7 separate regions of the Homo sapiens genome follow, and regions 2, 3, 4, 5, 6 and 7 are each linked to region 1. Evidence: fine-mapped expression QTL. A gene starts in region 1. Each other region holds a variant in brackets. All regions are shown on one strand. Distances are from middle to middle.

Region 1 (4,567 bases):
ATCTAAATTAGAATGTTTGTATTAAAGATAAATGAGAAAAAAATTAATGAGGTCGAATGAGAAGGTTTATAAAGATTTGTGAAAGGCACATGGAGCTCAGACATCATTAAAGAGCAGAACTCATTCTCAAGTTTCCTATCCAGCATGATATCCACTGCTATCTCTGTGGCCACAGAGCCTGGGAGTGGCAAAGTGGCTTCTCACTGAGGAATCGGACAGGCATGTTTCTATATCACGGTGAAAGGAAAAGAAAAGGAAAAAACCCCAGACAGCAAACAGAGATTGTGACAAAGATAACCACAAGGAATGTAAATAAAATATGATAAGCAGCTCACTCACCATCTCATCCTCAACAGCTCTCTCAGAGGCAAAAGTAAAAACATATAAATTATGTGTTTTCAAGGAGAGTCAAGCAATACTCTTTGGGAAGAAGCCACGGATATAAAAAAATTTTTCCGCATTTGTCTCACTTCTCTAATCTCAAGGCTTGAGATGTATGTACTTTCAAAAGAGACTCATCGAAATTTGGGCAGCATGAAGTTGAGCCCCCTGTTGGTAAGGACCTTCCAACAGTGACTCGGTCTTATTGGTGATAAGCCCTGTTTATATGAGCTTTCAAAAGCCTAAAAACAGGTTCTTTCAACATGACACCTTGAAATAAAATAAACGCATTGCAAACACCAACTGCAATAAACCAGGCTCACGCCAAAATGCACACGTGCACATTTCACAAAATAAGGGGGAGACATTTCTAGTGAGGAGCAATCTCTATGGGAAGGCAAGCGAGAGCGCCCACCTGCCAAGGGTCACATGCTCCAGAGCGCACAGGATTCCCTAAGTGAAACAGGCCGGTAGGAAGAACTTGAATAGTCAAAAATCTACAAACTCTTCAGAGGTACAGATCATCAGGCCATAAAAGCCACCTCAAGGAATTTTGGTCACATCTCTCTAAGGACTTCCAAAAGCTACCCTCTGCACTTGAACAGGAAACCTGCCAGCTCCCCTCAATCATTCTGCTCCTTTGGAATAGAAGTTACGCCTTTAACCGAAGGAGAACTTCAAATGCGCCACTGGTATCTGGTGCCACTGCCAAAATATATTTACATCACCTTCTATCAGTCATTCAGAGCCCAGTGCTGATATTCTCTTAGTAAGACAAGGAGGGGGTTAGGAGGTTGGTCATCCACCTCCTCATCTGCAAGGCTAAATGCAGGTTTTCTTGTTTATTCTACTTGAGACCCTGGGGAACTGGTCTGGTGTCTCAGGCTCTGATAAATTGAACACACTCCCCGCAAATCATGGCCCAGGGAGCTTTGGAAAGGAGCTGTGGGGCATCTGTTTCTGCTAAATGCAATGCCCTCTGCGGGTTGTTCCTCTGTATGAGGACTCCTAGACAAAGGTTAGCCTCTCCCTGCATCTGAGAAACTGTGCTTGGGGCTGTAAATGTTCATTGAGAAGCCTCCAACCTAGCCAGGGCCTGGCCTCATTGTCCTAAGTCTTCAGATGCACTCAGCCTCCAATGGTGCTGTATTTTACCAGTTAAACACGTCTTCAAAGTTTACTACGAAACAATGTGGCTCCTAGCTTGCCAAAAGTTTAACTGCAGGATTCAGTGGATTTTATCTGGCAGAGTAGCTGCCGTGACTCTTGACAATATTTGCCAGCAAAAGGCAGTCCTCAAACCTTGCAACCAGGGCAATCCCAAGGCCCAACGTGTCACTGAAGGAGTTCTTCTGGGAAAGGTCCCTCTTTCTCTTCAATCGCCTCCCGCAAATCCCCAGCTTCCAGAATCCAATTCAAGGCAGTCTGGCATTTCAGGAGACAGCAGTAAAAAACTTTTGATGGGATAACCCAGGACATAAATATTCCTGGCTGAACCTACTTTTGATTCTTAAATATCTGAAGGAGCTTGGGTTTAAGGAAGATAAAGGGAGAGAACCAATGAATAGGGAAAAATAAAATAAGTAGCATACCATGACCAAGCCAAACCAAGCTTGATATTTCCACATTATATTGGCAAATGGATGCTTTCACATATCACTTGTTCTGTCTTTCCTGGTGACCACAAAAAAAAAAAAAAAAAAAAAAAAATCTGGCTTCAAAAATCCTAACCCCAGACCACTGCATTGTGTCAGTGGAATGCAATCTAAATTGCCAGTCAGAAAGTCCAACCTTATATGTACCAACCAACACGCACACAAGCACCTCCAAGCCAAAAGTTGTAACGCCTGAACCCGTGCGTTTATCAATTTCATCATCCCCATACCCCTGCCGGGTTCCTGGCGCTGGGTAAACCGACAGCATCATGTTGCCATCGATGCGTCTTACAAGATGGTTTTGGGCAAATCCCCTAAAGTAGGCAGAAGCAAAAACTAGGTTCCTCTGCCCGGGCACCTCCTCCTCCAGGCTGGCCCCCGGCTCCCGGGTGCCCCTTACCTGCAGGCGCTCCGTGGCCGGCTGCCACATCTTCCAGCCCTGGGTTTTGGCAGAGGAGACGCTGGCGAGACTGTCGATCGCGCCGGGGGGCGAGGGGCTGGGGTCCCGCTTTACATCTGGGGTCGGTGTCCGCGGGATGTGCGTCCTGGCGCTGGCCACCGCCGCCGGGTGGGCGTAGGGGGCTGCGAGCAGGAGGAGGCGCGGCGCTCAGCTGCCGGCAACTTGTGGGCACGGCCGCGCGCCGGCTGTCCTGGCGCAGCTGCGAGAGGACTGCGCAGCTCCGCCCGGGCCCGGCGAGCGCGCGGCGGCGGCGGGGGCGGCCGCTCCCTCCTCCCCCGCCGCCGCCGCCCGGACCTGCGCGCTCTGAGCATGCCCGGGGCGGGCGCCCAGGGGCCGCGCGGGGCGGGAGTGCAGCGCGGCCGACTCTAAATCCTAGTGAGGGGTGAATGGGGAGGCTAGAACAGCCGGCCCTTCCCTGCAGGAAGCCCCCATTGGGTTGGGGTCTGGGAAAAGGGACAGACTGGCTGAGGGGGGAAGGGCCTGGAGCCGGGGGTGGTGGGGGCAGCGGGGATGTCGGGGGTGGCGGGGGTGGGGGAAATTCCTAAAATAAGGAAACCGTAGCCCCGGGGGTCCCGGGTTTCCATATAACAGGCATCTCTGAAGTGCCTGTGCTGTGCCTGGCGCTGTGCTAGGGAGACACTTCCATTCATTCTTCCCACTCCAGTTAACTGAGCATCTATTAGGCTCCAGCCCCTATGCTGGGTTCTGAGGATGCAGCGACGCAGAATAGAAGACAAGAGAATGTTCCTTCTCTCTGGAGCTTACCTTCTGCTTTGGAGAGAGAGTCGTGACTGAGCAAACACATCAACAAGCCGGTGCTATATCGGGTGGTGATAAAACAGGGCAGATGTGGGAAGAAGGGGAGAGGAGAGCTTCTTAGACAAGGGCCCTGGGGAATGCCTGGAGTAAGACCTGAGAGATGAGAGGGATTGGCCACGAAGAGGCCATGCTTCATGATGGGGAGAGGACTCGACTCCTAACCTATACAGGGGTGAGGAGGGCCATGCAGACTCCCGAATCACTAACTCATCCTGAGATCTGCCAGGTGCAGCAGGAGGCTCTCAGAACCCAAGGGAAAGCCGCTCTGGGCTCGCAGGCCTGGAGGCTCCCCGGCTAGTGCCGGCCACCATGAGATGACTTCCTGTCCTAAACAGGCCAGCCCTTCCCATTCTCTTGACAACTCGGCAAAATAACTATTAATATTTTCACCATGTGGATCAAACAAATGAGGCTTATAAGGTTTAGGTCACTTGTCCAGGTCACACAGCCAGTGAGTGGCTTAGAGAGTGCACAGTCAGATGACTTCAGGGCAGGAGATGTGGCCCTGCGCCTCTAACTGACCATGGAAACCCAGTGGAAAGAGCATCCGTCTAGGGCTGGGGGTTAAAGGCACTTGGCAAGTCAGGGATACTAAGCTGATTCTCGAGCTGATGAAGAGTGGGAGAGGAGAACATGGTGGGAAGAACTCAGGACATAGAATGACCAAAGAGAGGAGCAGAGAGAACACAATGTTTGTGGGGAGCCCTAGGCTCCTACAAGGCAGGGTCCTGAGAGCAGAGGGGTGTGAAAGAGAGGCATTTCATACTGAGACAGCTGCACAGCTTGGGCCGTGAGCTACTCATGCAATGTCAAAATCCACACTCCATGTCTGGAAGGAGGATCTGTCCATTTTCCTTGTTCTGCATGACTACAATGATTTCCAGATATGGAACCACTCCAGAATCTAACCCTCAGCTCATCGGACCCTCGCAGCAACTCTCCGTGGGACAGAAGCCCCTATCTCCCAAGGCTTGGGGAGCACAGGGTTCACAGAGTCACACTGTGGGGAGTTACAATGGCGATTCAGATCCAGGATTCCAGGCAGATCCTTCTGGACCCTGCGGTTGCTATGTTGGTGCCACCAGCCTTGGCAAGCCCAGGACCCTCAGTGCCTCTAGGAGCCTCTGGCAAAGCCACAGAGCTGCCTCTGAAGAGCTTGTCTCTGTCTCCCTGGATATCCACAGGACCCTCCCACTCCTGCCTGATAACCACCTGAACCTTCTCAGCTCCTTCTCCAGTTCCTGCTACTTGT
Region 2 (4,567 bases), 150 kb after region 1:
ATCTAAGTTCTAACTCCAGGTAAGTACTAGTTAGGAATTTAAACCCATCCATCTGACAGTTTCCTGAATGTATACAGACATACGATATGTAAATATATATTGGCAAAAATATTTCCAAAAGGGGGAAAATGTCCATCCCCCCACGGAGAGAAAAGCACAGGATCATGTGGCCTCTCACTTCCCCTCACTCTTCCTCTGGGTGGAAGAGCATGATTAGATCCTCCTGTCTCTCCTTTAATTCCTTCTACCTACCCTCCCCATGTCCCCACCACTCTTAGTTTAGAAGTTCTACCATTTACTGCTACATTACTAGGGTTTACCTCCCTGTTTTCAGCAGCCTTATTTAAACCTAAACCTAAAAGTCTTTATAAATATACTAAAATTAAATAAACACTTTATCTGCCCATTGGATTTGTCACCCAGGCTGGAGTGCAGTGGTGTGATCTCAGCTCACTGCAACGTCTACCTCCCAGGTTCAAGCAGTTCCCGTGCCTCAGCCTCCTGAGTAGCTGAGATTACAGGCACCCGCCACCACACCTGGCTAATTTTCGTATTTTTAGTAGAGACGGGATTTCACTGTCTGGTCTTGAACTCCTGACTTCAGGTGATCTGCCCACTGCAGCTTCCCAAAGTGTTGGGATTACAGGTGCGAGCCACCACACCAAGCCAGGAGTGAAATGTTTAACACACTTGTATGCCTTTCAGTCTTTCCTATCCTCACCCCCTTCAACACATGGCTTTGTTTTAAATAATATGAAACCACTTTACTTGTTGAAATTTTTCCTTAAGAGCAAGAGTGGTGGACACAGCCTAGAGTGACCCCTAGGGAGTCACACCCTTGTGTAATTCCCTCCCTTTGAGTGTGAGCTTCCAACCAAGAGCAAATGGCAGTTAAGACATTTTGAAGATGCAATTAAGGTCCCTAATCAGTTGACTTTGAGTTCCTCCCAGGTGGGCCTGGCCTAACCAGGTGAGACCTTTAAGAGGGTCCAGGCTGGGTGCAGTGGCTCATGTCTGCAATCCCAGCACTTCGGGAGGCCAAGACAGGTGGATCACCTGAGGTCGGGAGTTCAAGACCAGCCTGACCAACATGGAGAAACTTTGTCTCTACTAAAAATCCAAAATCAGCTGGGCATGGTGGTGAATGCCTGTAATCCCAGCTACTCAGGAGGCTGAGGCAGGAGAATCGCTTGAACCCAGGAGGTGGAGGTTGGTGTGAGCCGAGATCACACCATTGCACTCCAGCCTGGGCAATGAGAGTGAAACTCCATCACAAAAAAAAAAAGTCCAGGCCTTCCCGGAAGTTCAAGACTGGAAGCAGTGGGGTCTCTGTCATAGTTGCTAGCTTTCAAAGAGCAAGCTGTCACAAATCCTACAGCCACGAGGATATAAGTTCTGCCAATAACCTAAGGGGACTTGGAAGCTGATTTCTCACTATTCAAGCCTCAGATGAGAGCTCAGTCAGTCAATACCTGGCTTTCACCCTTGTGAGCCCCTGAGCTGGGAATTGACTAAGCCACACCTGGACCTAGGAAACTGTTAGGTAATAAAAGCATGTTGTTTAAGCCAGTACCGGGTACTGATTTGTTATGCAGCAATAGATAGCTGATACAGAAGGCGGATCTACTTTTTTCAAGAGACTTTCCTTCACCATTATATTACCATTCACAATCACATAAATATCAAATATTTAGATTTATGCCTGCATTTAAAGGCATACATCTCTTCCTTCCATTCTCCATCTTCCCCTATCTGGATATCTTTGTTTTGATTTAGTTCCTATTTGGTGGCGATGCTTATTAAGGTACTTATCTTAGGGTATAGGGTGCTATATTTTCTGTATCCTTGAATGTATGGCAATGTCTTTCTTTTGCCCTCAAATATAAACAACAAACTCCTAGTCCTTTTCATTTAAAAGTCTGAAACGCTGCTCTGCTATTCTTTACCTCATGATAGAGAGGGGCAGTACAATGCCGATTTGATTCTCTTTCTTCTGTATGTAACCTGTGATCCCTTCGAAGAATCTTGTAAAAAATTCTCTTTATCCTTGCAGTTACAAATTTTACCAGGAAATCTCAAATTGTGTATCATCTCCTTCATTAATCCCATTACTGCCCTGTGAGCCCATTCTATTTGAAAATAAGACTTTCTTCACCTCACAGACACCTCCTTCTAGGAGTTAGTTAATTCTGCTTCTATTTCCACATGCTCCTTCTTCTGGAGCACCCATCGCTCAGGCAGAAGCAGATCTCTCAAATCTTTTCTCCATGTTTCCTGTCTTTTCACTCGTGGTTTCCACTTCCTCATATTTTGATTCTCTCATGCACTAGTTCCTCCTTTTTATTCAGATCCAAATTCAATTTTGAGTAGTGTACATTACTTTCTTCACTTCCTTTCTTGAGTGTTTAGAGCTGTTGTTGCAATTTTTGTTTTTATTTCCCAAAACTTTTCTCCCTCTCTGAGTTGCTGGCGTGGGCTAGTGTACTGGCCAGGCTAGTGGGTGGAAATCTTGGCAGAGACAGACAACATAACACATTCCCCTTCAGGGATGGATGGGCAGCCAATGGGGCCCTGTGTACTAAGGCATGAGGCAGAGAGAGGCCTCCCAGTTTGGTGTTCTCAAGGCCACAAAAAATGGGGGGGCCAGCTCAGCCTACTGTGCAATTTCCTTAGACAGCAGCCCGTAGCCATGAGATCAGTACACCCCTCTGCCTCC[T/C]AGGGTCAGACGCAGCACAATTACAGCATGCACTTCCTCTCTATAAGCTGAAGGATTTTTTTGGACTAATCTGTTCATTGAGTCATCAGTTCTCTCTGGAGCCCTCATCCCCTGTTCTTGTGGTTAAGCAAAGGCTCCCAGCACACATACCCTTTCTTGAGACCCCAAATCTTCAGATGACCCCATTCAGGGTCATCTACCTTATTGAGCCATCCCTAGCAGAGAGTCAGGAGGGATCAGAGATATTGAATGTCAATGTGAGCTGCCATCTTCCTAGAATCTTCATTTGTTCAGAGTAAGAAATCCATGAAAATATTTATACACATGGAAAGGAGCAAGGGGAAAGAAGGAGGTTGAAGATATGTAGAGAGAAAGGTAATAGATAGATAGACTCAGAACTGAGAAGCCTGAGAATGAAGCCAGCACATCTGCTGTTGTGTCCTGGTAGATGTTAGTGGAGTTTGGTTCTAACCGAACGTCATACTCCAACAGAAGCATCAGATCTGTGGAACACAAAGTCAAGACCTGGCCCAGCTTCAGCCCTCTTATCCAGGAGCTTAATCAAGTTTTCAGTGTAGCCTACAAGGCCATGAGACTTGCCAAAAAGGTTACTAAATAAAGGTAGGTTCATCCAAAGAGAAGCAACGGTGAGGGCAATGCAAGGTCTCCAGCCAGGTGGATGGCATCAAGCAAGCAGCAATAGGAGCAAGCGGTTGAATGAAATGGCTATAAATAGAGCCCACAAACGCATTCCAAAATCTAAACCCGGCCCCGTAGTTATGGCTTAGAGAAATGTGTGCAACAGCTGATAAATAGGTTCTCCTGGAACAGGGCCGTCTGAGGATATCTGGGCTCCAGGAAGCCTTGCCATCCACAAAACGTGGCCAGAGGCCAGTGAAGATGCTGGGAAAGGGCTTTAGGAACCACGCTGACCAGGCTTATAGGGGAAGAGCATTACTGTCCACCTCATAGGGTTCTCGGGGGGATTTAGTGAGCTATGCACATTAGGGGTTAGAACGGGGTCCACACATTGGAAACACTCTGTCAATGTCGCCTGTTTTTAATAAGCATTAACTTACTTGCTGATACATGGGACTCCGCCTGCCTCCTCCCCAAGAAAGCACAGCATTCTATCTCTGCATAAGAAGCTTTATAGGACGGCATCCTTCCTCTTCCACAGTTTTCACAGCCATGGTCTCTAACCTATGTCTGACAGTCCATCTTAATATTACTTTTTGTTTTCAGCTTTTTACACATTCAATAAAAAAGAAAGCGAGGATCCACAAAGAACAGGACAGGAAAGGGGGTTGTTTCTCAATCTATCAGGAAGAAACCAGAGACTTGCAAATTGGTCTCCTTGGACCGATTAATCATGCCAGCTTCAGCATTTGATTGTTATTCTGAACAATTCATGGTCCAATTAGAGGTTTATGCATTTACACTGAGAAATACATGACGTCATTTAGAGCCATTCTGGCACAGGAAGGCCAGGCGGCCTCTCACCTTTGTATTCTGCCAGGCACACACACTCATAGCCATTAACGAGGTCCCTGCAGGTGGCTGCATTCAGGCATGGAGCGGAGAGGCACTCATTATATTCCTCCTCACAGTAGAGGCCATGGTAACCTGAGGGACAGAGAGAAAGGCCCACTGTCAAATGCATCCCATTTACAACCCACGCGGGACCAGCCTGCAAGGAAGGCAGTTGGGGGTATTCATTAGAAAGTATGGTATAAACAGATGGGATTTCAGGAGCTAGATCTCTTGGGGTAAAGTTGAAAGGTGGATTTGGGGGAAGGCTATGAAGAAAGCGCCTGTTCTTATCACACTTTTTCATGATCCCAAGTATAA
Region 3 (4,567 bases), 90 kb after region 1:
TTTTGAAAAATAATCCAAAAAAAGATTACAAATCTTTAGTTTTAATCAGTGTGACCAAGGGTTTGTCATCAGGACTGTAATCTTCATAGGCGATGGGGCTCACATCATACATTGCAGGCCGGGATTTCTTTCCAAACCTGAAATCAGAGAGAAAGGACTCTGGTTAGATAAATACTAGATCTCAAGTTTAATTAAAGCAAGTGATGAGAATAATTTATATGCATGAATTAAATGAAACTGTAAAAACATATTCTATAGCAAGCATAGAAACTTTAGACATCCTAATATTAACACTGAATGTGTATAAACATTAGTCTTTGGTGTTCGAGGCAAAAAAACATATTTCACAAAATGTAGAGCTCAAAGTTGGAGCTTGCAGGTTAAATCTTGGCAAAGCAGTCAAGCATGACAGCTCCACAATAGATTTTAAGAAAATGTGTATTGATTTGTCTTTTTCTTCTGAGGCCCATAAATATTTGGAGAGGTGAGTTTATTTTATATCTACTCCAGTGCCTGGAATATAGAACACCAGGGCAGTCTTCCCCGGGCCATGGACAGACAGCCTTTCCTGTGGGATTTTCAGGGGATAAGCTGTGAAGGTTTAAGGTCATCTGAGATCCCAACACAAAAGGGCAGAGGTGGGAAATGACTTCAGATACAGAGGTGTCTGTCCACAAACTATGCCAGAACTCACCATTGAATCCCACCCACCTATCACCTCCCAACCTTATGGACACAGAAGCCAATGTTTTCCTCAGAGCACAAAGCCATTGTCCCAACAGATTTGTATGTATCAAAATTGCCTCGACAGCAGGACTGCCTCTCAGAAGCCAAGGGAGTCAAAATCCAATTTCAGGACTTCCTGTCAAACCTGTCGTAAGGTGGCAATTATTAAAATAAAGCCAATTCAACTTCTGGGTGGTCTCTTCCCATTCAAGACCTCACCTTCCCTACAAGCCCTGGAGTGCAACAGGATTCAAACGATCTTCCACACTAACCCATCCTCCCTCCTCCTTTGTCTGGACAACATTTTTTAATTGTTTCAATTCCACCAGGGCTCTTTAAAAAGACATTTTAAAAGAACCTTAAATTTTACAAGGTTCCTAGGATGGGGTCCCTAGGAATTAAAGGGGCTTATTTGCCATGGCTCCTGTCCCAACTCTCCTCTTTTCCTATTTTTTCCTTTGATATGTTGAAAGTCTGTCTTCTCATGTATGGAGATGGGAAGTAGAATCAAGCGGGAAATGAGAAAACAGTGCGTTCTTCATGTGATCTTTCATTTTAAACAGTCATCAATCTTGTATTCCAATCCTCTCAAATTTTACTGGCCTTGAAGAGCACAAAGGCATATGCTATGCCAGACAGGCACCAGGCAAAACACGGGGTTAAAGAGTTAAAGCATTCTACCCTCAGAAAAACCCACAGCTATTACTGCAATATGACAAAAGACTTCAATAAATACTTTCTAAAATGTGAAGCCTCACTGAAGGTCCACCATTGTGCTCACATAGATGTGGGTCAGGCTCTAGCCTGCAGTTTGTTCACCTAAATTGAGTGAGGCCTGCATAATCTAAGGATAGGAAAAGTGTCAACAGAGTAAAAGTGTCAACAGGCCTGTTGGGTCTTACACTTTCTCCCAAGTCTGACAATTTCCTAGGCTGCTTTAAGATGCAAACATTTTGACAATTTATTTCTCATAAAATACCTAGATACACCACCACTAATAATAATTTAACCAAAAATATCCAGCAACCCAGTGAAGAGCTCTCCATATCTAACATAGTAGGATATAGAGAGCTTTGACTTGAGGGCCAACAAATTATATTAACTAACTAATTATTCGATTGGTTGGCTGAAAGGAAAAACCCAATTGTATATATCTTTAAAACATCCTTTTTTTTATTTTTTATTTTTGAGACAGAGTCTCGCACTGTTGCCCAGGCTGGAGTGCAGTGGCGTGGTCTCGGCTCACGCGGCAAGCTCCACCTCCTATGTTCGTGCCATTCTCCTGCCTCAGCTTCCCGAGTAGCTGGGACTACAGGCGCCCGCCACCACGCCCAGCTAATTTTTTGTATTTTTAGTAGAGACGGGGTTTCACTGTGTTAGCCAGGATGGTCTCAATCTCCTGACCTCGTGATCCACCCGCCTCGGCCTCCCAAAGTGCTGAGATTACAGGCGTGAGCCACAGATCCACTGAGTATGACAAGGCAAGGGCTGATGCCTCTCAAGAGTGAGCCACATGGCCACCTATGCATGTTCAAGGTCAACTGAAGAGCAAGGAGCACCACTCTGTGTCCACACTGGTTAACTGAGCTGTGTGGCCCGGTCCTAATGGGATTAACTCCAAACAAGTATGGGTCATAAAGTATAATGCTAGTTACGAAGGTGGTTAAAATAAGACTAATAGCCCCAGCACCAGAA[G/A]AGAGAGCAGGCAGGCTTGGAGCTGGAATCCCTGCATTTCAACTTACTAGCTGCTGAGAACTTTGTCCAAATTCCTTAGGAGAATTTTGGAGGTTTCCACCTGAAATGCTGTATCTACCATATGGAAGCTAAAATGACGTCGTTTATAGAAACACCACAGTTTTAAAACACACAGTACAATGAAAAGACTTTGTTTGAATCTCCTACACCTCTCACAGTAGCAGGCTTACACTTGTTGGTAAACGAATGTGCATTCATGTCTACATTTAAAAGACTAACAGTGTTTTTTTTTTTAATATCTCAGGCACTAAATCAATGTCAGAGGCTGTTTATTTTATTGCAGGCATTTTCATGCAAGTGTTCATTTTAAAAATAACTACTACTTTTTATCATAAAGGTACATTTTAAATGTAAAAAAAAACCAAAATAAAATTGGAAGCTAGAGAAAATTATAAAATAGACTAGGGGTTAGCAAACTATAGTCCACAGGCCAATTCCAGCCTGATGCCTGTTTTTCAAATAAAGTCTTAGTTGAACATAGTCAAGCCTATTCACACTTCCTCTGGCTGCTTTTGCACAACAAAGGCTGAGTTGAGTAGTCAGGACAATATGGCCTGCAAAGTCTAAAACATTTTACAGGTCCCTGATGAAGACCACAAGAATCGCCCTTAGTGCTGCTCTCCAAAGGACGTGTCAATGTTTTGTGCATTATTCTTCAGTCTGCCCATCCCTCAATCCCACATCCCTTCCATTCATTTTACAAATATGTATGAAGCCCCTCTGAAAGTATTATATATAATAATTATATTACATATTTTAACAAAATTGAGAAAATACTCTGAATACTGTATTGAGACTGACTTTTTTCAATCGATAGTCTGTGTAATGTTTTACTCAGCATTCTTGTTAAGTAAAAAAAAAAAATTCCTACAAGTTAAAACATTAATAAGAAAATGTTTCTTCTGTGCTGGGTGGGGCGGGCTGGGTGGAACACTTAGTGTTCATAGTAACATGTTCCCACCTGAAGTAGCTCATGGCCCACGACATGACCACAGACCATGACACTTGGGAAATGTCTGCTGATGGTCCATGAGGAAGCCAGATCTTTAAAAGATGGGAAGGAGTTGACACACTCCCCCTCCTCCTGAAAAAATAGCTCAAATACCCTAATGTGGTGGCTCCATCTGCGGCTCCTTCCTAGCCCCTCGAGGGGTGATGCATCCATTGTCCTTGGTGCTCACTCAACATCACATTCCATTGTCTTGTTTTCACTGATTGATCATCTCATCTCATCATCATAACAACCTCGTGAAGTGAGTACATCTCATTTATCCTGTATTACAGATGAGGAAACAGACACTTAGGAATAATTTTCCTAAGGTCACACCTGGTGGGAGGTGGAGCTTTCTGGCTTCCAAGCCTAGATGCTGAACACTTCGTTGCAACCTTCATGCATGTGACGACCCCATAAACTGAAGCTCTCACTTAACCTGTGCCTGACAAGAGGCTATGTACTTCTGCATTGAAAGGCATCACCTTCAAATCAGCACATCCTCCTTCTCATTAACAAACTCTGGCTTACAAATCTCACTTACAAGTCCTGGTTTTCTCACAAACTCTGTGACCCTTGTGTAAATTGTATTATCTCACTAAGCCCAAATTTCTTTTGCCTATAATGGGGGACTAATGATACATGGTCCCCTACATTCTTGTGAGATGCTTGCCAATGAGTTATTTGTGAATGATTTAGCACAGTGTCTGGCCCACGGGAAGCTTTCAGTAAGTGTTGGCCATCACAGAGGCACTAACAGAAATGACAGCACCAGTAATATCAGTTAGCACGGACATCTCAAACATCCTATTTGGTGACAAGTCTTGTGTGTCTATTTCTTCAAAGAAACAAAAGATACTGTAACCAGTTATAAGGCAGGTCAAAGAGCCGCTAGTTCATGGTCCTCTGAAAGTCAACCACTAAAACAATGCCGCAGAAAGAATGTCAGATCTTGAGAAAGGCCAAAATTGGAAGGTTTTGAGCTATTGGGGAAAAAAACTGAACATGTCCTCCATTGTCTTTTTCCCGTGATCAGGCACTTCTAGCTCGTAGAGCAGTCAACTGAGTGGGACCTCAGTGTCAGAACTTGGAGAA
Region 4 (4,567 bases), 68 kb after region 1:
GCAGAGATATTTCACAGGCAGTAGAAACTTGCTTGGATTAAAGTAACAGTTACAGCAAAAATTATATAGATAATTACTATTTATAAACACTTACATTTTCAGATAATTTTTAAAAATTTCATTCACATGTTATGAAAGTAATACATGGTGATTTTAATGTTTCAGTCAACCCAGGCTTGTCTAAAACAATGCCTCTCTCAACATGTAATGTGTATTCAACACACCTGAGAATCTTGTTATACTGTGGATTCCAAGCAGAAGGTCTGGGGGTGAGGCCTGAAATTCTGCATTATTTATTTATTTATTTATTTATTTATTTATTTATTTATTTATATTTTTTATTTTTTGAGACTGAGTCTTGCTCTGTCACTCAGGCTGGAGTGCAGTGGTGCGATCTCGGCTCACTGCAACCTCCGCCTCCCAGATTCAAGCAATTCTCCCTTTTCAGTCTCCCAAGTAGCTGGGACTACAGGTGCACGACACCATGCCCAGGTAATTTTTGTATTTTTAGTAGAGACAGGGTTTCAACTATATTGGTCAGGCTGGTCTCAAACTCCTGACCTTAGGTGATCCACCCACCTCAGCCTCCCAAAGTGCTGGGATTACAGGCGTGAGCCACCACACCTGGTCAAATTCTGCATTTTTTAAACCAACTCCAAGATAATGCAGATGATGCTATTAGGTTGGCACAACAGTAATGGCAAAAAACACAATTACTTTTGTGCCAACCTAATACAATGAGGCTAATAAATTTGGGTCTAGAAAATGTAACAGTCTCCCTCTATCACCAACCCACTCACAACCCATCTCTCTGATTATATTTAAGGCTATATTATGTCAGGTTCTATTATTCTATAATCTGTGTTCTTTACTAACCATAGAGAATGAGCATCCTTCCAGGTCAATGCCAAAAATGTAACTCATTCTTTTAACTGTATGCACAGAATTCCATAGGCAAAATGCCATGATTTATTCACTTTGCCCCTTACTGAGAGGGGGGATGTTTCTAAGTTTGGAGCCATTTTTAAGCTCACCCATATTCATCTTCTTTCTCTGTAGCTGAGAGAGGGACATAATTAGCAAGCTTACCTGGGCCTCACACCAAGCTCTGTACTCTTCCAAGTGAGGAAAGGTAGTTCAGAATGTCTCAGAATGAAATAATTGAACCAAACTCCACAGCAGACAGGAGCATAACTTTTCTGATTCTCCAGCCAAAGTATGATTCCTGCAAGAGATCTTGCTGGTCAACTAGGAGGCCCATGACATCACGGGATAAACAGAGTTCATCTTCCTTTGTGGCCAGTTTTACTTGAATTCCGTGGAGGCAAATCAATTCCTTATTTTCATATTAAAACACACATGTGTAATCAAAAATAAAACATAAAATTCACAGAAATTTTTTGATTAAATCATGAAAGCTCCAAAATATTTTCTTGCCTGTGGCCAGTTGCTTTAGACTCTCTGGAATACAGCTTATGCCTCTCTGCACTTAAGAGCAGTGTAAACGTAGCATTGAGAATCAGACATTAACTTGGTGCCACACCCTTATCTACAGGTGAGAAAACTGAGGCTCAGGGTGGTTGACTAACCTTAGACAGCTGATAAATTACAGCAGGTGAATAAGGTAGTCTGGACTGTTAAGATGAAAAAGCTTGTGAAGCTTTGCAGAGCTGAGAATGGTTTATAAATCACGATTTTAGTTCTGCAGTGGTCAAACCTTTCTGCATATTAAAATCAGTAGAGAAGCTGTTAAAGTCCCCAGTGTTCAGGTCCAATCAACACCAATTAAATTAGAGGTTTTGGGGGTAGGACCTAGATATCAGTCTTTTTTATAAATTCCCCCATGTGATTGCAGTGTTGAGCCAGGGTTGCCAGATTTCGCAAATAAAAGTATAGAAGACTCAATTAAATTTGAATTTCAGATAACTAATACATTTTTTACTCTAAGAACATCCCAAATATTGCCTGAGACATACTTAAGAGTTACTCATTGTTTATCTCAATTAAAATGTGACTAGGCCTCCTGAATTTTGTCTG[A/G]GCCCTCCCTGATGCAGGCAAGTTTGAGAGCAAGGCTTTAGGGGAAGTCTTTGACTGCAAGGGGGCCCAGGCAGCACTTCAAGGTCAAGGTGCCCAGCTCTGCACACTGATGGGTAACCCTCCATCCAAATTTGCCCAGTCTGAGATAGGATTCAGGAACCAGGTGGATGGCATCTTTCGAATCAACAGGGTCCTGGGCCTGACACTTGTGACTGTTCTCCAAAGACAGAAACACGGTGTAATTTATGGAAAAGTGAGTGAAGCAGGTGGTAGATATTAGTGGTTCACGATGCTCTGCTGCATGTAGTTTACGGCTTGCCAAAGCCTCTTTTCATCTGGTTCTGCAGATGTATACACAGGGCAAACAGTTGAGCCTCTGACCAGACCCTGAAAAAAGCTTAAATGCTCCCAGCAGGAGAAAGTCCTTTCTCATAAACACCAATTTCCTGCCATGAGCATCTCTGCGTTTTCTGAAAGTGACTACAGGTTGGTACTGGAACCCCCCTTCTTCCCCCCAACTTCTTGTCTCCTAGACCTGGTGACCGGGACACTGAGAAGCCCTCTGCCTACTTTTGCTGAAGTCTCTCAGGATTCAAAATGCAACCAAGCTGGGTACAGTGTTGCATACCTGTGGTCCCAGCCACTTGGGAGGCTGAAGCAGGAGGATTGCTTGAGCCCAGGAATTTGAGGCTATAGTGCAGTATGTTTGTGCCTGTGAATACTCACAGCACCTCAGCCTGGGCAACATAGCAAGACCCTATATCTTTCAAAAAATGCACCAAACCAGCAAGAAACAAAATATTTGTAAACCAGTTAGAATGGCAAACACTGAAATGATGAAAAGAGAAAGACAGCCAGGCATGGTGACTCACACCTGTAATCCCAGCACTTTGGGAGGCCCAGGTGGGTGGATCTCCTGAGCTCAGGAGTTTGAAACCAGCCTAAGCAACATGGCAAAATCCCGTCTCTACCACAAATACAAAAAAATAGCCAGGCGTGGTGGCGTGTGCCTGTGGTCCCAGCTACTTGGGAGGCTGAGGCAGGAGGATCATTTGAGCCTGGGAGGTCGAGGATGCAGTGAGCTGAGATCATGCCACTACACTCCAGCCTGGGTTACAGAGGGAGACCCTGTCTCTCCACCACCCCTCCCCTACCCCGAAAAAAAAAAGAGAGAGAGAGAGAGAGAGACTAGCCCTGGGAGCCAGTTGTTTTCTTCCTGGAACTGGGAGGTGAGGGTGCCAGGTGAAATGCTGACAGGTGGCCTCCACTGGAAGCCAGCAGCTGCTGGCCATGCAAAATTGTCTAAGGGAGTCATTCCATGGGCCAGACCTCCCAGAGCTCAAGAATTTCCAAATCCATCGTGACTCACAAACAACGAACTTATTACCAGGAAACATTGCTGTGAGCCACCGTGTTTGTCAAAGTGCTAATGTCCTTATATTTTAACCAGACAGTTCCGTAAACAGAGGGTCCTTTCCAGCACACACTTTCCTATTTGATCACTGTTTCTCTCTGGTTTCACACCTGTAAGTGGTATCCACGGGAAGCCGAAGTGGGCCCGACTTTGCACCATTTAACCAAGACCAGCTCCCATTCAAACAGACCCCAAATCCAGGACAAGCAACATGTGGGCTAGGGGAGTGTAAGGTGATGACGGGGCTTTTCGCAAAAGCACATGTGGAGGAAGCAGAGAGGAGGCTGGCTTCCTCCTGCCTGGTGTCCCAGACTCCCAGCCCAGGGAGCCAGCCAGCGGCCTTGCCACCCCCATTCTCCATGAGTGTCAGAGATTCCAGCCTCCCACCAGACACACACACAACCAATTAGCCCTTGCTTTCCCACTCCCTGAGTTCCAGATGGCCTTTGCCAAGACGGCCCTGTGGTCTTGCTCCAAACATGATCGATTACAGCCCAGAAAAACTCTTGAAGGCATTGGTTGCTTCTGAAGTTAAGACTATGAAATTACTTTTCTTCACTGAAGTCCCCTCTGAACTTTGGAAGCCACAAAATCCTTCCTGGAGCAAAAAGCCCATTTCATGGGGCTGCCTGAGCTCCCAGTGCAGCTCTCAGAGGCCACCATGACTCATGTGGCAGCAGTACACCCACAAGACCTCTGTGGCGAGGACACCATATGGTCACCAGGAGCAGCAGGAACAGCACCAGGCCAGCCTGGAGGGCCAGTGGGACAGGGGCCCAGCTCCCATGGATACAAATTCACCCCTGCTCCACTCGCTACATAACTGATTCACTCACCAAACATTTCTTGAGCTCCTGTTACGTTCTGATGCATTCTGGACCCTATGCTAGGCAATTGAAGATGAAACTCTACCTTCAAAAATCTCAGTTCACAAACCTCAAAGAAGGTATTTAGGAAGGCAGGAAGGCCTGCTGGAGAGGATGGTGCCTGCAGCAAGACAAAAAGACATGTCTGACATCTGGGGAGACAGAAAGCGTGGAAAGACCACAATGTCAGGAGTACCAAAAATAACTGCATCCCAAGAGTCTTCGTACACTCACCTGGCGAGGCACATCC
Region 5 (4,567 bases), 60 kb after region 1:
AAAGACTGCAACAAGAAAATGAAAAGGTGAGCCACAGACTGGAAAAAAATAGATACAAAACAGATAAATGACAAAGGCCAGGTGTTCAGAGTATATAAAGAAATGCTATAAATTAATAATAAAAAGACAACCCAATTTTTTAAATGGGCAAAGATTTGATCAGACATTTCATGAAGAATATATATAAATGGCCAAGAAACACTGGAAAAGATGCTCAACATCATTAGTCAAATTAAAATAATAATGAGACACTATAGTTGTGCACCCAAGTGGGTGATAAGTATGGTATCTGACATACCCAATTAAAAACACTGACAATACCCAATTTTGATGAGGACGTAGAGTATTTGGAAATGCTGTGCATCGCTTGAGGAAATGTAAAATTGAACAACTTATTTGGAAATCAGTTTGACAATTTCTTATAAAGTTAAATACACACTTAGCTATACAACTCAATAGTTTTACTGCTAGGTATTCACTCAAGAGAAATAAGGACGTATTTCCATGCAAAGACTTGTACAAATATGTTCATAGCATCGTTTGTAATCATCAAAAAGGGGAAAGGCTCAAATGTCCATCAGCAGGTGAATGGATAAACAAATTGTAGTATATTTGTTCAATGGAATGCTACTAAATAATAAAAAGGAGCAATCATGGGCAACTGCTTTGTTAAAACTCATAAAGTGATTCATAGACACAAAAGAGTACATACTGTATGATCCCATTTGTATGTCATAAAATACATAGACTTAAGTAGACAGCCAAACACAGATCAATGCATGCCTGGAAGCAGAGGTGGGAAAGATACCACAAATGGACGTAAAGAAGCTTTTTGGATGGCGGCTATGTTCTAGATACTGATTGTGTTGGTTAAATAGGTTTATACTTTTGTCAAACCTCATCAAACTGCACTCTTAAAATGGGTGCATCTTATCTTATTGTATAGAAATTGTACCTAATTAAAATGAATTTTGGAAAAATGCTGGTCATGGATTGGTAAAGAGGCTCTGGAGGAAAGATGATCAAGCAGCGATGGAGGAAGGTAGCAGTTTTCTGGGCAAGTTGGCCAGTGAAGAATTCCCATGGTGAGAAGGCTGAAATACTTTTAAAGATAGGACTAAGTCATATTAGATTTTCAGTCATTTAAGTGGAAAAGCCATGTTCACATATTTTCATTAAATTCAGTTGACCTACATGTGCCTTGTGTGAAGAGCTGATTTTCAGCTGGTAAAGTAGTCACATGAAACTTTTAACAGCCAATGCCAATTCTGACTGGGGGTGATTTATTCCTATTCTTTAGTGTTCATCTCCATACTTTTTTGGGTGTTTTTTTTCTTTTCTTTTTTTTTTTTTTTTGAGACAAAGTCTCATTCTGTTGCCCAGGCTGGAGTGCAGTGGTGCGATCTCAGCTCACTGCAACCACTGTCTCCCAGATTCAAGTGATTCTCCTGCCTCAGCCTCCCAAGTAGCTGGGATTACAGGCACGCACCACTGTGCCTGGCAATTTTTGTATTTTTAGTAGAGATGGGGTTTCACCATGTTGGCCAGGCTTCTCTCAAGCTCCTGATATCAAGTGATTGCCTGCCTTAGCCTCCCAAAGTGCTGAGATTACAGGCGTGAGCCACCGTGCCTCGCCATACTATTATTTTTTAATCCAACTCCAGCTTGTGTGAAAGCTTTTTGTAGAAAAAGGATGAGATCCATATCTGGGTCAGAATGGAGCACAGGAAAGAAAAGCTGTAGAAAGTGAGACACATGGTCTTGTGAGTCTGACCTCTGTTGGGTTCTCAGAGTCAGAAGGAACTGTGAGCCTGTGAGACCCTGGAAGTTGCCAGAAATTTTGGAGAGTCCATTGGCTGTTCCCTAATCATGAGCTAGGGGCCTGGAGTTAATTATTTTTGATGAAGTACATTAAATAAAAATAAGTAAATAAAATATTTCCAGCTGTCCTTTGAAATAAATAAAATGTTTTATTTATTTCAAAGGACAGCAGACAGCTGGCATATGAGCTATGCCTTCATTCACCCCATGAGCTATGAAATCACTCTTTCTTCCTAATGGGTTCTGTGCCTTGTACAGATATCTGTGATTGAATCTGTGAAATACTATAGTCTCTGGACTCAGCAATGAGCTGGAGGTCTAATTAATCTTTATATCCTCAGCACCTCGCATAGGATTTGGCACAGGAAAGTCACTCCGTAAATGCTTGTTGAAGTAACCTTTGGTTCTTAATACAACCAAGACTTCCCATCGTTCATCAAGTCTTGCCCTTATTTAACTGTCATCAGTACCCTGGTCAGGGTTCATTTCCATGCTTCCCCCTCCTGGCTTCCTCATTTCTTTATTTTTTTCTCTTGCAGATGGTCCTGTGGTTTCACTTCCTATTTGGTTTCTGAACTCTCTGAGCACGAGACTTGGAGACGTGGAGTCCTTTCACTGCAGCTTTCAAAACCTTTCTTAGGGCTGATATGACAATTGCTGGCACTG[C/T]GTAATTGCTGTGTGGCTACTTGAAAACTTCTCCACTAGAGACTCACTGAGAGCACCTATTCTGTTGAATGGATTTGGCACAAGGAGGAGGAGAGAAGACAAATGGCCTGGGCTGGTAAGAGACAAAAGTGCCGTGTGTGAGTCTTGGCCCACCTACCTGCTGTGAGACTCTGGGCAAATCACCTGGTCCCTCTCTTCCCACATCTTCTGATGAGCCTTGCTGCCTATTTCCTGAGTAGCTCAGTGGCCACCAGAGACCCCAGGCTCTTTATCAACATTTCAAGATTGTGTAAGTTCTGGCATTTTGTACATTATCAAAAAGAGAAGGCTAAGACCTAAGTCAGGCTAAATTTGATTCAGGAAAACACCTGACGTTTTTGTACTTAAGTATCGAGGGGTAAATCACATCTTTTGCACCTGAATCCGTAAGAACTGTGGCCTAACCCTCTTCTTCTGGAGAACTCACTTTCCTGTCTTTCTGAGACTCCAGCTAGATAGTCCTTTGGCAGATGTTGACCCCATACTACCTTCTCCGTGGGCAACATCTGAGTGCATGGTCTACCTTAGTGAAGGACCTCTCCTTGCCCCTGAAGCACTTCTATCATCCTGGACCTCAACGTGGAATGGTGACCCCTACCTGCCCCACCAGTCACGACCACCTTCTTCCAGCACCTCCAATGTGTCTGCCCTCCAGCACCACCTGCTCCCAACGTAAGACTGCTGGGGTGAGGTTGCAAAACTTGTGTCTCCCTTAAGTATGGCTTCTGTACAGGTTTGTACCCAGTTGTATTTTAATTAAAAGCTTGGCTCTCTAACAATGCAGGTTCTAAAGAGGCCTTAGTTTGCTCCCATTGCCAGTCTTCTTAGAGACTAAATTCAGTCAGCGGGGGAAGGCTTTGCCTCTGCTTAGGATTGGAAGCCTCCATATGCATAATTGCAGAGGGGCAGTAGAGGAGACTAAATGCTTATCTAACCTATGGTTTTTATCAACGGTGGTCGGTTTGTTATTATTTTTAAATGAGTTAGATTCACTTTAAGATGTAAATGGAAAATGGCTCCCAAGTTGTCACAGGCACAGTGCCAAGTATTTCAGACACTTATGAATATCATTAGATAATTATCATATTTGCTGTCAATAGCACTCATTAATCTCGTGTTCAGGGAGAGGAGCCCTTCAGAGCATAATTGCTGCAGTTAGAAACATCTCTATCCCAAGTGCCAAGCAATTCCATGTGACCTTCCCCTATAGACAACCCCATAGTTCTATGTGATGCCATCCTCTGTAGCCACACACCCCACCAAATTCACAGCACCTCTGCCTTTCCCCTAAGTAACTAAGGGTCTCATTCAATTCCATTCAACCAAATGTATGGACCTCCTTCTGTGTGCCAAATGCTGCCCTTGTGCTAAAAAACATAGATGTTCCACCTCAAGGTGTTCACAGTTTAGCGTTGCTGATAAAAAGGCAAGCAAATAATCTCAACTCCACGTAACATGCGCAGTAGGAGAAAGATGTGCAGATATGGTTCATTAAAAAGGAGTTACGCCTATAATCCCAGCAACTCAGGAGGCCAAGGAGAGAGGATTGCTTGAGGCCAGGAATTTCAGACAAGCCTGGGCAACATGGCAAGACCCCATCTCTAAAAATAATTAGGCAGGTGTGGTGGCACACACGTGTAGTCCCAGCTACTCGGGAGGCTGAGGTGAGAGGATCGCTTGAGACCAGGAATTGGAGGCTGCAATGAGCTATGATGGCACCACTCCACTCCACCTCCAGCCTTGGTGACAGAGTGAGACTCTGATTCTAAAAAAAAATAGAAAAAGAAAAGGAAGGAAGGGGCTCTCTCTGGAAGACCAAAAGAGGTCACCCAAAGAAGGTGATGTCTGTCTGCCTTTTAAAGAATGAATAGGAGTTTAGAATGCAGATTGACTGGAGGAAAAGTATTGCTATGTGAGGCTCCATTGCTTCTTCTTCTCTGCATTCTCACCCCCACGTTAGTAGACATATCTAGGGTACTGGGAGGTGGAAAATAAGAAGATAGAGTGCCCAAGGGATTTTACTTTTGAAAGGAAAGATAAG
Region 6 (4,567 bases), 110 kb after region 1:
GTAGGCAGCATCTAAAAAGACAATTGCTGAAGGTTAATCCTTCCTGGGAGTAGCTCATAGCATAAGAGGTATAGTAGTACAGAAAAAATAAAAGAAAGATCAACCAGTATTTATTTAGTGTCTACTGAACAGCAGAAATCTGGACATTTGCCTCATGTAATCCTCACAGCAACCAGCATGGGAAGCCTTCCTATAATCAAGTGAGAAAGACAAGGCTCCCAGAGGTAAATTTGTTTTTCCAGGTTACATAGTTAGAATATGATGGAGCTTGAATCTGAAGTCGACTTTGATCCTTTTGTTATTCCATATTTTGCCTACATTATCATCACCAGAAGAAGTAAACTTTAGATTTTTTACAATGATAGGATTTCACTTCAAAATTTCTTGATGATATCCTGTGTGTTCCTGACTTTTCATCTATACTCTCCTATATATTTATCTTCATGAATCCCATTTTAAAGTTATAAGTAGATATTACTCTGCCCTAAAGGCACAAAGTGTGTCAATTTGTCATACTAAACTTTAGAATGAAAACTGATCCCATTTTCTGGAAAAGTAAACTGAGGCTCAGCACAAGCAAATGCAGTCATAACGAGTGCCTTGGCCAGGATAAGAACCAAGGTCCTGCTGACCCAAGTCTGGAATCCTTTCCACCAGCAGATTCCACCAGACTGGACTTAACATCCTATAACTACAGTCCCTTAGAATTTTACCATTGAAATCCTTTTCAGTCCCTTGTCTCTCTCTTCAACAAGAAAGTAGTTCTCACCCATCTTTAGCAAGGAAAGTTAATTCGAAGCCCATTCTGTATGAGAGCAATTGAGAATGCTAAGGGGGAGGCCTATAACAATTACACACTTCACACTTTGGCTGCATGAACCAAGAAGAAAGACAGTGAGTGAGCAGGTAAGAAGCTAAATCATATCCTCAGCCTCTTATCAAGTTGATCAAATTGACGTTGGAGAATGTGGTCAAGTTGGTCAAGTTGATGTCAGAGAATGTGGTCCACATTTGGACAAGAGAGTTTCCTAATACCGGCCACCCTCTACATTAGAAAACACTGAGAATGAGATGACCCTATCCAGCCATAGGCAGCCAGAACCACCAGTGAGGGCCTGGTCTTGTGACATAGAGAGGAGTGGAGAGAGCAGACAGATCAGGCCAAGTGACACAGACAGACAGGCAGAAGCAGGCAGGCAGGACTGTGGGTACTGATTTGCATCCTTCCAAATTCACACAGAAGACAAGTTTTCTTTATCTGTCAAAAGGTGAGTGAGCAGGTGACAGAGCGCGGAAGGGAGTTCTTATGCAACTTTCCCAGGAAAAGAAGCAATCTGGAATAGGGAGGAAACTTTCACCCAACCAGCATGGTTAGCTCTCTTCGGCTATGAAAGATCAAATTGCCCCAGCTAATTTAAATAAGAAGACAATACCTTTCAAAGTTGAATCTTTAACAGTTCCAAAACAATTGAAAACTCGATTGCAGTCAGGCACGGTGACTCACACCTGTAATCCCAGCACTTTGGGAGGCCAAGGCAGGTGGATCATGAGGTCAAGAGATCGAGACCATCCTGGCCAACATAGTGAAACCCCTTCTCTACTAAAAATACAAAAATTAGCCAGGAGTGGTGCCACACACCTGTAATCCCAGCTACTCGGGAAGCTGAGGTAGGAGAATCACTTGAACCGAGGAGGCAGAGGTTGCAGTGAGCTGAGATCATACCACTGCACTCCAGCCTGGACACAGCAAGACTCCATCTCAAAAAATAAAAATAAAAAAATAAAATAAAATAAAAAAAGAAAACTGGAGGGGAGGCTGGCAAAATGGCCGAATAGGAACAGCTCTGGTGTGCAGCTCCCAGCAAGATCAATGCAGAAGGCAGCTGATTTCTGCATTTCCAACTGAGGTAGCTGGCTCATCTCATTGAGACTGGTTAGACAGTGGGTACAGCCCATGGAGGGCGAGCAGAAGCAGGATGGGGTGTCGCCTCACCCGGGAAACACAAGGGGTCAAGAAACTCCCTCCCCTAGCCAAGGGAAGCCATGAGGGACTGTGTCGTGAGGAACGGTGCACTCCAGCCTAGATACTATACTTTTCCCATGGTCTTCACAATCCACAGACCAGGAGATTCCCTCGGGTACCTATGTCACCAGGGCCCTGGGTTTCAAGCACAAAACTGGGCAGCCATCTGGGCAGACACTGAGCTAGCTGCAGGAGTACTTTTTTTTTCCTACCCCAGTGGCTCCTGGAACACCAGTGAGACAAAACCGTTCACTCCCCTGGAAAGGTGGCTGCAACCAGGGAGCCAAGTGGTCTAGCTCAGCAGATCCCACCCCCACGGAGCCCAGCAAACTAAGATCCACTGGCTTGAAATTCTCACTACCAGCACAGCAGTCTGAAGTCGACCTGGGACACTGAAGCTTGGTGGGGGGAGGGGCGTCCACCATTACTGAGGCTTGAGTAGGCGGTTTTCCCCTCACAGTGTAAACAAAGCCGCCAGGAAGTTTGGATTGGACGGAGCCCACCGCAGCACTGCAAAGCCACTATAACCAGACAGCCTCTCTAGATTCCTCCTCTCTGTGCAGGGCATTTCTGAAAGAAAAGCAGCAGCCTCAGTAAGGAGCTTATAGATAAAACTCCCATCTCCCTGGGACAGAGCACCTGGGGGAAGGGGCAGCTGTGGGTGCAGCTTCAGCAGACTTAAATGTTCCTGCCTGCC[G/A]GCTCTGAAGAGAGCAGTGGATCTCCCAGCACAGCACTTGAGCTCTGTTAAAGGACAGGCTGCCTCCTCAAGTGGGTGCCTCCTGACAGAGAGACACCTCCCAGCAGGGATCAACAGACACCTCATATAGGAGAACTCCGGCTGGCATCTGGCAGGTGACCCTCTGGGAAGAAGCTTCCAGATGAAGGAACAGGCAGACATCTTTGCTGTTCCACAGCCTCCATTGGTGATACCCAGGCAAATGGTCTGGAGTGGACCTCCAGCAAACTCCAGCAGACCCACAGCAGAGGGGTCTGACTGTTAGAAGGAAAACTAACAAACAGAAAGGAATAGCATCAACATCAACAAAAAGGATGTCCACACAGAAACCCCATCCAAAGGTCACCAACATCAAAGACCAAAGGTAGATAAATCCACGAAGATGAGGAAAAACCAGCACAAAAAGGCTAAAAATTCCAAAAACCAGAATGCCTCTTCTCCTCCAAAGGATCACAACTTCTCACTAGCGAGGGAACAGAACTGGACAGAGAATGAGTTTGACGAATTGACAGAAGTAGGTTCCAGAAGGTGGGTAATAACAAACTCCTCTGAGCTAAAGAAGCATGTTCTAACCCAATGCAAGGAAGCTAAGAAACTTGAAAAAAGGTTAGATGAATTGCTAACTAGAATAACCAGTTTACAGAAGAACATAAATGACCTGATGGAGCTGAAAAATACAGCAAGAGAATTTTGTGAAGCATACACAAGTATCAATAGCCAAATAGATCAAGCAGAAGAAAGGATATAAGAGACTGAAGACCAACTTAATGAAATAAAGCATGAAGACAAGATTAGAGAAAAAAGAATGAAAAGGAATGAACAACGCCTCCAAAAAATATGGGACTATGTGAAAAGACCAAACCTGTTTGATTGGTGTACTTGAAAGTGACGGGGAGAATGGAAACAAGTTGGAAAACACTTTTTAGGATATTATCCGGGAGAACTTCCCCAACCTAGCAAGACAGGCCAACATAATTCAGAAAATACAGAGAACACCACAAAGATACTCCTCGAGAAGAGCAACCCCAAGACACATAATCATCAGATTCACCACAATTGAAATGAAGGAAAAATGTTAAGGGCAGCCAGAGAGAAAGGTCGGGTTACCCACAAAAGGAAGCCCATCAGACTAACGGCAGATCTCTCTGCAGAAACCCTACAAGCCAGAAGAGAGTGGAGGCCAATATTCAACATTCTGAAACAAAAGAATTTTCAACCCAGAATTTCATATCCAGCCAACCTAAGTTTCGTAAGTGAAGGAGAAATAAAATCCTTTACAGACAAGCAAATGCTAAGAGATTTTGTTACCACCAGGCCTGCCTTACAAGAGCTCCTGAAGGAAGCACTAAATATGGAAAGGAAAAACCAGTACCAGCCACTGCAAAAACATACCAAATTGTAAAGACAATTGACACTATGAAAAAACTGTATCAACTAACGGGCAAAATAACCAGCTAGCATCATAATGACAGGAGCAAATTCAAACATAACAATACTAACCTTAAATGTAAATGGGCTAAATGCCTCAATTAAAAGACACACAGTGGCAAATTGCATAGAGTCAAGACCCATTGGTGTGCTGTATTCAGGAGACCCACCTCACATGCAAAGACACACATAGGCTCAAAATAAAGGGATGGAGGAATATTTACCAAGCAAATGGAAAGCAAAAAAAGGAGGGATTTCAATTCTAGTCTCTAATAAAACAGACTTTAAACCAACAAAGATCAAAAGAGACAAAAAAGGGCATTACATAATGGTAAAGGGATCAATGAAACAAGAAGAGCTAACTGTCTTAAATATATATG
Region 7 (4,567 bases), 80 kb after region 1:
CACATCCATGTAGTATTTCACTGGAAGACAACATACTTTTATTAAAAAACAGCTTTAAAAGTTACTGATCTAGTGCTGAGATCCTAGGGACAGGAAAGTAATGTGACTTAGTCAACTGGTCAGGGGTTTGGGGGGTATTAAACACATACAAATAGTCTTCACTTCCACAATAACTATGCTTTTGCTCATTTTCCTTGAAACACACAGCCCACTCAACTAATGCTCATATACCTGTTTTGATGGCATGGATATAGAGAAATGTTTATCCACAAAATGAAAATAAAGCAAAACTAAAACAAAAATAACTGGGCAAAAAATATTATAAGTAGTAACTGACATTCACCTTTAGTGTCAGTGAGACAATAGGGAGTGGTGGGGTTTGTGCCCAACTATCTAAAAGGGGCAGTTTCATTTCCATTTCAGCCACTTGCTGCCATGTGGTAATAATGAAGCCATCTAGGGTCAATGAAGCAATCTTATTGTCTGAGGTGTTGAGTTCTTTGTCTCACAACCAAGAAAATTAAGGAGCACGGACACCAAGGGTGAGGTTGGAGTGAAAGTTTAATAAGCAAAAGAGGAAAGCTCTCTGCAGTGGAGAGGGTTGCCATTTTACAGTTGAATATAAATGTTTTTATAAGAAATTGTCCTTGTCTATGTAGTGGCCTGTGTAACTGCCCTTATCTGTACAGCTGTGGACATGTCTCAGGCAAGCCTCCCCCGCCAAGAAAGTTCCCACGGAGCCACCAGGTACATGTCCACAAAAGGGGAGGAAACTTTCCTGGGAGTCCGCTGATTATACAATGAACAAAGGTGTTTCTATGTTGGGGCTTGTCCCCTTATCTGTGTAGCTGTAGGTTGATTTTTCAGCCTATTTCTCTGTTTAAAACAATTCTACCAGTGACCTGTCTTAACTGTCTGCCTGTTTTTTTCCTTTCTCCTGTCTCCATATGGATGGTGCAATCACATTTCTGAGTTTTCAAGGTAAGCCAGAAAACTGATTTGTGTGAGTGGAGTGTGTATGTGTGTGTGTGTGTGTGTGTGAGAGAGACAGAGAGATCCTAATTATTAATTTTGGTTTACACATTTAAACATATGGTGTAGGACAAACAAAAGCACATCTGTGGCTCATCTAGGGCTGAAAGCCAAGTTATAACCATAGTTTAATTGCTCAGTATTAAAAATGACAGGCCGGGCATGGTGGTTTACACCTGTAATCCCAGCACTTTGGGAGGCCACAGCAGGCAGATCGCTTCAGGCGAGGAATTGGAGACCAGCCTGGCCGGACATGGTGAAACTCCATTTCTGCTAAAAATACAAAAATTAGCTGGGCATGATGGTGCAAGCCTGTAAGGCACGAGAATCACTGGAACCCAGGAGGTGGAGGTTGCAGTGAGCCAAGATCACACCACTAAACTCGAGCCTGGGCAACAAAGTGAGACTCTGTCCTCAAAAAATAAAAATATGTATAAAATATAAATGACAAAGCATAGGCTGGGAGAGGTGAATGACTCACCAAGTTTCTGTCAGCTTATTCAAGAAAGAGCTAAGATAAAAATCTAAATTTGTTAACTCCCAGCTCAGTGCCTCTCCACCTTCTCCACCCACACTGCTCACTCCTATATCTATGTGTAGTTGGAGAAGACATGCGTGGTTGCCTCCTAGGACCACTCCCCTTCCCCATCTCAACTGCCCTTTAGTTTTGCATCCGTACTGCTCTTGCCCCACCTCTCACTCTACGTTCCATATATTTCTAGGGCCAATGACCCCTTTCCCAGCCTCAGGATAATCCTATGCCCCCTCAGCAGTGATTGATTCAGGAATCCAGGCCTTTGTTAGTGAGGGTGTAGCATTTAGCTGGCCATGAGGGATAATTCCAACATGTGTACATGACCCAGTTTGGGCCAATAAGAGTTACTAAATATTTGAGGAAGAAATCCCCTAGCTGCTAAGAGGGAGCCTCTGAGGCAATCTCTAGTTCATCCTCTGAATGTCCTGACATTCATTCATTCAGCAAATGTTTCTTAAGCAGCTACTATGTGCCAAGCACTGTTCCTAGCACTGGTGATACAGTAGTGATCACAA[A/G]GTGGAGCTAAAGTACTACTGGGAAAACAGAAAAAAAATGACTGAAAAAGTAACTCAATGACATGGCAGATAGATACTAGCAAGTATGATTGAAAATAATAATGCAGAATAAGAGAAAATGGAGTAGAGTGGAATGAGTGGGTACACAAAAATATAGGGTAGCCTGAGTATGTGAAGGTAGAAATTGTCATAGCCATTCTGCCATCACAAGGGAAGCAGCCTGATGATGAAGCCATCACCTAGAGGAGAGCATGACCAAGGAAACTGCAAATAAATGGAATAAGAGCTTCTGGATCAAGCTGTTCCTGAAGCTTACCTCGCTTCTGGACTACCAGTTACAAGATTTTCTTATATTTTAAGTCAGTGTATGTATTGGGTTTGCTGTCAGTGACCTGCAGCCAGAGGCATTCTAATAATTATATTAAATGAAATGACATATAGAGAGTTTGATTTTCTTGGGAGCTTTTACTTGAGTCATTTCAAGAATAGACCAATATTTTGTTGGAAATATACTTAAGGTGCATTTGAGATAGAAGATTCTTTCCTAAGGATTGTGAGGGTGAGAACGACTGCTCTGCACAAAACAAAACAAGAGATTAATTTTCTTATGGTTCTGGAGAGGGAGATGAGAACAACAGAAGAACAAGAGAGGAAGCAGAATCTGCATATGGTGGAAGGTCACCTTCTCCATGCAATATGAACCTCTCTGTGACTCTCCCCCAAGGCCCTCAATAAAGCCTATAAAAGCCTTCTAAGTATTGCATTTTGTAAGGGATTGAGATAAATTGAATGATTGAAAAAATAATATATCTTATTGACCAGTCCAGGTTCTCAAATAGCCAGGCCAGGTCAACAGATACATAAGATGGAAATCTTGCAGATATTTTGCAAACAAATGTGTAAAACTCTAGAAGGCATTCCCACTGGTTCCATATTAATGTGTGCCTTTGCCTTCCATTTCAACCATGTCATCTTTCATTGTTCTCTCACATACAACCTTCTATCTCCTTCTGCATTAAATCATCATGCATTTTGCTATTCAATCAATGGAAACATTTAATAAAGGTTTGCTAAAGGTCAACCAACATGCCAAGCACTAGAGTTATACAGCTGAATAAGACAGAGTCGTCCTGAAAGAGTTCGCCTTCTCAAGGGAGAATGGAGACATGTGTTCCCCCATACCACATGCCTACCATGTGCCATCACTATGCTGGTCCTTAAGTATGTTACCTCACTTACACTACAGAATGTTGCTCTCAAGCAGAGGTCAGCCAACCTTGTCTGTAAAAGACCAGATATTAAACATTTTAGTCTTGTGCTGGCCAAGATATAAAACTGAGCATATGATATAGATACTTGTATAACATGAGAGGAGATAACATTCCACACATTTTTTATTAATGGAAGTCAAAATATAACAATAATTGAATACGATTTATTTTTGTAATACAAGTCTACTAAGGAGAAGAATAAAACTCTGTGGGGTAGAAAATATTTCACTTAATTGGGCTTCCAAGTGAGTGTGTATGGTATGGTTTGAATGTCTTTCTTTGTTGCTTCCAAAATTCAGGTTAAAATTTAACCCCCAATGCAACACTATTAAGAGGTGTGGCCTTTAGAACTGAGTCATGAGGGCTGTGCCCTCATGAATGGGATTAGGTGCCCACCTGAAAGGGCTTGAAGGAGGACTTTCACTCCTCACTTTTCACCCCCTGTCCCTTCCACCATGTGAGGACACAGTGTTTCTCCCCTCCAGAGGATGCGGCGACAATGCATCATCTTAGAAGTGGACACCAGGTCCTCACCAGACACCAAACCTGCTGGTATCTTGGTTTTGGACTTCTAGCCTCCGGCACTGTGAGAAATACATTTCTGTTCTTTATAAATTATCTGGCCTCAGGCATTTTGTTATAGCCACACAAATGGAGTAAGACAGTTGGCTATTGTCAAATCAATTTCAAATGCTCATTTGTTATAAACCACTCTCACTGCAATGAAAGGAACCAATCTCCCTGGAAAAAAATGGCTGATTCTAAGTCTGAAGCAGGAAACACACAAGATGAGCCTGGAGCATCCTGTATTGCCAGAAAGCAAGAAAGTGCTAAAATGCACGCACACACAGGCACAGGTACATACACACACACAGGCACATGTACACACACACAGAGATACACAATGATGAAGGTATGTCAAAGGTGCCGACTAGAAAAGCTCTCAATGGCCAAAGATGGAAAATTTTGAGCAAAAAAAAAAAAGTGTTAAATTATACTCCAAACAATAACAAAAATGTCCGTTAGTCCATACTAGTATAAATAAGTTATTGAATAAATAAACGTGGGAGAATAAACAAATTTCTCATGCAGAATCCCAAATAATTGAAGTAGATACTTTATCCTTAAGGAAGTGGAGAAGCATAACTCCCCGCTCCCTAAGTGTGGGCTACACATAGTGACTTCCTTCCAGAGAGTACAGTCTGGAGAGAAGA

Direction of the effects. Positions count from the first base shown, and alleles are read on the strand shown. Sizes are in standard deviations (SD) of each study's normalised expression. Not every link is listed here.
In carriers of allele G in region 3, the expression in non-classical monocytes of the gene that starts at base 2,710 in region 1 tends to be higher than with A alone (large effect, 1.1 SD a copy in Schmiedel 2018).

What was found.
Region 2: its variant is fine-mapped to the expression of PID1 in whole blood (TOPMed, PIP above 0.99).
Region 3: its variant is fine-mapped to the expression of PID1 in non-classical monocytes (Schmiedel 2018, PIP 0.95).
Region 4: its variant is fine-mapped to the expression of PID1 in whole blood (TOPMed, PIP 0.96).
Region 5: its variant is fine-mapped to the expression of PID1 in whole blood (TOPMed, PIP above 0.99).
Region 6: its variant is fine-mapped to the expression of PID1 in whole blood (TOPMed, PIP 0.96).
Region 7: its variant is fine-mapped to the expression of PID1 in whole blood (INTERVAL, PIP above 0.99).

What each region holds. Positions count from the first base shown.
Region 1 is chr2:229,268,578-229,273,144 of GRCh38, forward strand. PID1 (phosphotyrosine interaction domain containing 1) reads right to left here and starts at 2,710. Exons shown (of 3, transcript NM_001100818.2): 1 at 2,437-2,710. The coding sequence starts at 2,466.
Region 2 is chr2:229,413,889-229,418,455 of GRCh38, forward strand. DNER (delta/notch like EGF repeat containing) reads right to left here. Exons shown (of 13, transcript NM_139072.4): 9 at 4,220-4,342. Among named protein-coding and RNA genes, the nearest start is that of PID1, 140 kb to the left of the region's middle. The variant T/C (reference allele first, on the strand shown) is at 2,717.
Region 3 is chr2:229,358,515-229,363,081 of GRCh38, forward strand. DNER (delta/notch like EGF repeat containing) reads right to left here. Exons shown (of 13, transcript NM_139072.4): 13 at 1-137. The coding sequence ends at 26. Among named protein-coding and RNA genes, the nearest start is that of PID1, 90 kb to the left of the region's middle. The variant G/A (reference allele first, on the strand shown) is at 2,422.
Region 4 is chr2:229,336,446-229,341,012 of GRCh38, forward strand. No RefSeq gene overlaps it. Among named protein-coding and RNA genes, the nearest start is that of PID1, 67 kb to the left of the region's middle. The variant A/G (reference allele first, on the strand shown) is at 2,038.
Region 5 is chr2:229,328,784-229,333,350 of GRCh38, forward strand. No RefSeq gene overlaps it. Among named protein-coding and RNA genes, the nearest start is that of PID1, 60 kb to the left of the region's middle. RefSeq lists an enhancer at 1,845-2,925. The variant C/T (reference allele first, on the strand shown) is at 2,488.
Region 6 is chr2:229,379,161-229,383,727 of GRCh38, forward strand. All of the region lies in intron 11 of DNER (delta/notch like EGF repeat containing), which reads right to left. Among named protein-coding and RNA genes, the nearest start is that of PID1, 110 kb to the left of the region's middle. The variant G/A (reference allele first, on the strand shown) is at 2,721.
Region 7 is chr2:229,349,055-229,353,621 of GRCh38, forward strand. No RefSeq gene overlaps it. Among named protein-coding and RNA genes, the nearest start is that of PID1, 80 kb to the left of the region's middle. The variant A/G (reference allele first, on the strand shown) is at 2,083.